2 separate regions of the Homo sapiens genome follow, and region 2 is linked to region 1. The links come from fine-mapping of genetic effects on gene expression. A gene starts in region 1. The other region holds a variant in brackets. All regions are shown on one strand. Distances are between the middles of the regions. Region 1 holds the start of LINC01170 (long intergenic non-protein coding RNA 1170). Region 2 overlaps LINC01170 (long intergenic non-protein coding RNA 1170).

Evidence for each region.
Region 2: its variant is fine-mapped to the expression of LINC01170 in nasal epithelium (TOPMed, PIP above 0.99).

Annotation. Positions count from the first base shown.
Region 1 is chr5:124,437,148-124,440,069 of GRCh38, reverse strand. It overlaps LINC01170 (long intergenic non-protein coding RNA 1170), which reads left to right and starts at 1,550. Exons shown (of 6, transcript NR_125774.1): 1 at 1,550-1,675; 2 at 2,194-2,373.
Region 2 is chr5:124,306,208-124,309,129 of GRCh38, reverse strand. The region is part of intron 4 of LINC01170 (long intergenic non-protein coding RNA 1170); the gene reads left to right. LOC107986448 (a long non-coding RNA gene) reads left to right here. Exons shown (of 4, transcript XR_001742871.2): 4 at 2,839-2,879. Among named protein-coding and RNA genes, the nearest start is that of LINC01170, 130 kb to the left of the region's middle. RefSeq lists an enhancer at 1-673. The variant G/A (reference allele first, on the strand shown) is at 1,735.

The sequences.
Region 1 (2,922 bases):
TCTCTGATAGTACCTCAGAAATAAATACCGTATGGCCTGGCATGGTGGTGTGTGCCTGTAGTTCCAGTTACTTGGGAGCTCCCGAGGCCAGGAGTTTGAGGCCAGCCTGGGCAGCATAGTGAAATCACATCTCAAGAAATTTTTTAAAGTTGTAAAAAAAAGAAATAAGTACTATAACTAGCAGCTGCCATCCTATATGAGAGGGTTACTCTATGTGTACATCTCCAGATGAAGGGTGACTCAGAGTAACACCACATTTAGTGCGATGCCATACCCAGTTTCACACTCTCAGATGAGGCTTTGTTATTCTTGAAGACTGAGGTCCCGTAGGTAGCCTGGAAAACAGTTCACAAAAGGCTCTCTGAATAGTGAATGCACATGCTTAACAAATCTGTTTTTGCTAGTCTCCATTACCTTCCTTCAGCAGGTGTAAAGCTTTAGTTCTGATATTCCTCTCCATTGTAGATGCCTGGCTCTAAGCCTTCTTTGTTTCTACCCAGATGCCAGCTTCTAGTTAACTATTCTTTTTTTTTTTTTTTTAAGCTACCAACCATCTGGAGGAAATCTGATTGGGGCTAGGGTCATTTTTGTACCTTTTAAAATGCGGTGTAGGTAAAAGGATTTGTCAAACCCATGAATGACCCTTCTCAGATCTCAGAGGCACTTCAGATTGGCAAGGGACTCCTTCATGAAGAAGCTGACTCAAGCAGAGGTAGCAACAGAGGCAAAGAGGAGCATGCTGAAGCTACAAGATGGGTTGAGAAATATAGATCTGCCCAATTATAATTCAAACAAAAACAAGTGAGAAACTGTAGTCGGTTGAGGCACTCTTGGCCGAGCATCTGGGCTTGGCATGCATGCATGCATAATTAGGCTTCAGGCAGCTGCAGGCTTCCACAGTGCAACAGGGCAGGCAGGATATCATAATACACAGTAGGTTGCATATCAATGAAACTCTTTTTAAATTCACATGAAGCCTAAGATAAAAAGACATCAGCAAAAATTAAACAGCATTCAAAACGGCAGTGAATTGTGATACAGGCCACCAGGAAAACGATGAAACCCGACCTGGTTTCCCCCCATTGTTCTGTTTCCTTCACACAAATAGATTAGAGCAACAGTGCTGACTTTGTTTTAAAATACACACACTCATTAGATCAAAGTGATCAATGCACATTTAAGCAACTTTCAAGGCATCACAGGAAGAGTGAAATGGTCTGCTTTATTTTGAAAGACAACAGAGAAAATCACACACATGCATCGGGGCATTGTGATATGCAGATGGTTGGCTTTCAGAAGAATTAAATATTCATGGAAGATAAAAATCTCTCTCATTATATTTTTAATGTATATGAGGCTTTGGGCTCAATGCCCTCTGTGTTCACATAACAGACAGACCCTGTTCTCCAAACACATGGATCTGCACACAAGGACGGCTCAGATCACATCCCGAGATGTCACCCTGGCCCGGGCCGGTCAGGCCCTTCCACCGCAGGGCTGCCCCATGGCAGCCAGTGACACCGCTGAGACAACTTTGCCGTGGCCTTACTTTCATTTCCTTGGTTGTTCAGTTTATGGCAAAAGACCCTCAGCTGTGTTTTGTTTACTAATTCCCCTAAGCCTGCCTTAAATCCAGACTGCCAGGGCCACAGGAAATCTTTCAGACCCCTGACAGGTACGGGTAAGTCTCTGAGGTACCTGGGCGTTTGCATTTGCTTCTATTACTAACCCACGTGCAGCATTATAACCTTCCTGCTTTTTCTTGTTTATTCCATGTCTTTGTTTGACAGAGATTCAAAGGGGTTTCTCAGAGGCTTTTAATCTGATTAACTACACATGGGTGACCACTGTAAGGGTTGGGATGCTACAGGACAGGCAGCACTGTCGGGTAGGGTCAGATTTGTCATCCCTCCTGCCCTCGCTTTCCCCAACACACTCCCAGTTTTCCCCTCCCCCACCCCGTGTGCCAGCTCACTCAGAAAATAGGATTCCAGATATGCTTTTATTGAGGAAGAATAATTAAAAAAAAAGATGTGTTTCTTCTTCATAGGGTGCTGAAATAATGAATTTATTAACCTTAGATCAGTGAAATGAATGAAAACTAAACCTGCTTAAAGGAAAGCATTAAGGTGAGAAAAATAAATATTCCTCTACATTTCAATTTGATTCTGAATTTAGTTCATTTTACTCCAGTTAGAAAATTGGCTCCACCTATGGCATTCACTGGAGTAGTCATCATCTTCTACACCGTGTCATTTTCCGTGCTTCTTTGTACATACATTCTTTCCTATGCTTTAAGACTGTATCGTCTATAGAAGATGAGTAATTATGATGAAGACTGAATCGTCACAGCATTTTGTTGTTGGCGTTCAGGTAATTGTAGCTGCGCGTGAGGTAGTTATTTGACCAGGTCTAATGTGTTGAATTGGTCTCTTGCTTTTTTTTTTTTGGTCACTGCTGTTGCCCTCCAATAAATTCCATCTTATCTTCAACTTAGATTTAAATACATGTGTTTTCTAGGTGTTGTTTCTATGCTCATATTTTAAACACAAGCATAAATGTACTTACATTACTGGATTCCAAAATGTAAATAGGTAGGACACTCAGGAATCAGATCTAACTTCCTTTTATCCCCCTGTCTGTGAACTGTGCTTTCAGTAAAAAGTAATGTTTCCATGTTGGGAATTCCCATTATTTCTTTTAAATATCCTCTAAAGCCCTGGTTTAAATAGGAATCAAAGTTCTTATTCCAGTGAGTGGAACAATGCAGTAATATAGATGTAGGGATCAAAGACATCACTGAACCATCAGCCTCCTGCCTCCAGTGTAGCCAGCCATCCTCAGCCATCCCCAGAAGCTGCATCCTCAGGGGCAGCACCCGGGGCTGAACAGTGAGCTGGCCAGGCTGGAGGGAATCTCCTC
Region 2 (2,922 bases), 130 kb after region 1:
CCATCTGGATGTGTACATGAAGGTCACAGGGGATATGATGGCTTAGCTTGGGCTCAGAGGCCTGACATTCCTGTCTTCTTATATCAATAAGAAAAATAAAACGAAATAGTGGTAAAATGTTGGGACGGTGAAAATTTTGGGGGGTGGTATGGAGAGATAATGGGAGATGTTTCTCAGGGCTGCTTCGAGCGGGATTGGGGCGGCGTGGGAACCTAGAGTGGGAGAGATTAAGCTGAAGGAAGATTTTGTGGTAAGGGGTGATATTGTGGGGTTGTTAGAAGAAACATTTGTCATGTAGAGTTACTGGTTATGGCCTGGATACGGTTTTGTATGGATTGAAAAACTAAACGGAATAAGAGAAGGAGAAATACAGGTATTAAAGGACTAAGAATTGGGAGGACTTAGGACATCTAATTAGAGAGTGCTTAAAGAGGGTCAGCATAGCCTTGCCGGCAAAGATTATTTATTTACTTTAAGAGTTAAGAGTGGCAGTTTGGGGATAGCACCAGGAGATATCAGCTGTGATGGCTTGGAGAAACAGTGTAAACAAAAGCAGGGCATGTATGAGTAGTTGAGAACAGTGAATAGGAGTATGACTAGACAGAAAATAGTAGGGATGACAAGTTTTTTGAGGCACAGTCTAAGTTGGTCTGGTGTCTGGGATGAGACTGGGGCCTAATAAAAAGGAGCATCTATGCAGGACCTTAAATGGGCTGTACCCTGTAGCATTCTGAGGACAGGCCTGAGTTCTGAGAAGGGAAAGTGGTAAAAGTATTGTCCAGTCCTTTTTAAGTTGGTGGCTGAGCTTGGTGAGGTGTGTTTTTAAAAGACCTTTAGTCCATTCTACTTTTCCTGAAGACTGAGGACCATAAGGGATATAAAGGTTTCACTGAACACTAAGAGCCTGAAAAACTGCTTGGCTGATTTGACTAATAAAGGCTGGTCTGTTATCAGACTGTACAAAGGTGGGAAGGCTAAAGTGAGGAATTATGTCTGACAGAAGGGAAGAAATGCCTGCAGTGGCCTTCTCAGACCCTGTAGGAAAGGCCTCTACCTATCCACTGAAAGTGTCTACCTAGACTAAGAGGTATTTTAGTTATCTGACTCGGGGCATGTTGAGTAAAGCTAATTTGCCAGTCCTGGGTGGGGGCAAATCTTCGAGTTTGATGTGTAGGGAAGGGAGGGGGCCTGAAGAATCCCTGAGAAGTAGTAGAATAGCAGATGGAACACTGAGAAGTTATTTCTTTGAGGACAGATTACCACAATGAGAGGTTTTGAGAGGCAGGCTAGTGGCTTGTACTATAGCATATCCTGCCTTTGCTGGTGTGTGGCGATTAGGCCTTGTGGAACTGCCATCAATAAACTAAGTGTGATCAGGGTGAGGAACAGGAAAGAAGGAAATATGGGGAAATGGGGTGAACGTCAGGTGGATCAGAGAGATACAGTCATGGGGGTCAGATGTGGTATCCGGAATAATGTGGGAGGCCGGATTGAAGTCCGGGACAGGAACAATCTTAATTGTGGGAGACTTAACAAAGAGTGAGTACAGCTGAAGGAGCCGGGGAGCAGAAAGTATATGCATCAGGTGTGAGGAAGAAAATAGATTTTGGAAATTATGAGAGCTGTAGAGAGTGAGTTGAGCATAGTTTGTGATTTTGAGGGCCTCTAAAAGTATTAGGGCGGTGGCGGCCACTGCACGCAGACATGAGGGCTAGGCTAAAACAATAAGGTCAA[G/A]TTGTTTGGACAGATAGGCTACAGGGTGCAGTCCCAGCTCTTGTGTAAGAATTCTGACCGCACTAACCATGCCTAGGAAGGAAAGGAGTTGTTGTTTTGTAGAAGGGATTGGGGTTTGGGAGATTAGCCGGACACGATCAGCAGGGAGAGCACATGTGATTTTATGAGAATTATGTCGAGATAGGTAACAGATGAGGAAGAAATTTGGGCTTGATGGAAGTAATGGGGGCTGTCTGTGAAGCTTTGTGGCAGTACAGCCTAGGTAATTTGCTGAGCCTGATGGCTGTCAGGGTCAGTCCAAGTGAAAACGAAGAGAGGCTGGGATGAAGGGTGAAAAAGAATAGTAACGAAAGCATGTTTGAGATCCAGAACAGAATAATGGATTGTGGAGGGAGATATTGAGGATAGGAGAGTATATGGGTTTGGCACCATGGGGTGGATAGGCAAAACAATTTGGTTGATAAGGCACAGATCTTGAACTAACCTGTAAGCTTTGTCTGGTTTTAGGACAGGTGAAGTGGGGGAATTGTAAGGGGAGTTTATAGGCTTTAAAAGGCCATGCTGTAGCAGGTGAGTGATAATAGGCTTTCATCTTTTTAAAGCGTGCTGTGGGATGGGATATTGGCATTGAGGGGTGAGGGTGATTAGGTTTTAATGAGATTGTAAGGGGTGCATGATCGGTCGCCAAGGAGGGAGTAGAGGTATCTTATACTTGTGGGTTAAGTTGGGGGGATACGAGAGGAGGATGTGAAGGAGGCTTTGAACTGGGGAAAAGGGCAGCAATGAGGTGTGGCTATAGTCCAGGAACAGTCAGGGAAGCAGATAATTTAGTTAAAATGTCTTGGCCTAATAAGGGAACTGGGCAGGTGGGGATAACTAAAAAAGAGTGCATAAAAGAATGTTTTCTAAGTTGGCACCAGAGTTGGGGAGTTTTAAGAGGTTTAGAAGCCTGGACATCAATACCTACAACAATTATGGAGGCAAGGGAAACAGGCCCTTGAAAAGAAGGTAATGTGGAGTGGGTAGCCTCTGTATTGATTAAGAAGGGGGTGGACTTACTTTCCACTGTGAGAGTTACCTAGAGCATCTGTGATGGTCTTGTAGGCTTCCGAGGTGATCGGGCAGCATCAGTCTTCAGCTGCTAAGCCGAGAAGATCTGGGAAGGAGTCAGTCAGAGAGCCGTGGGCC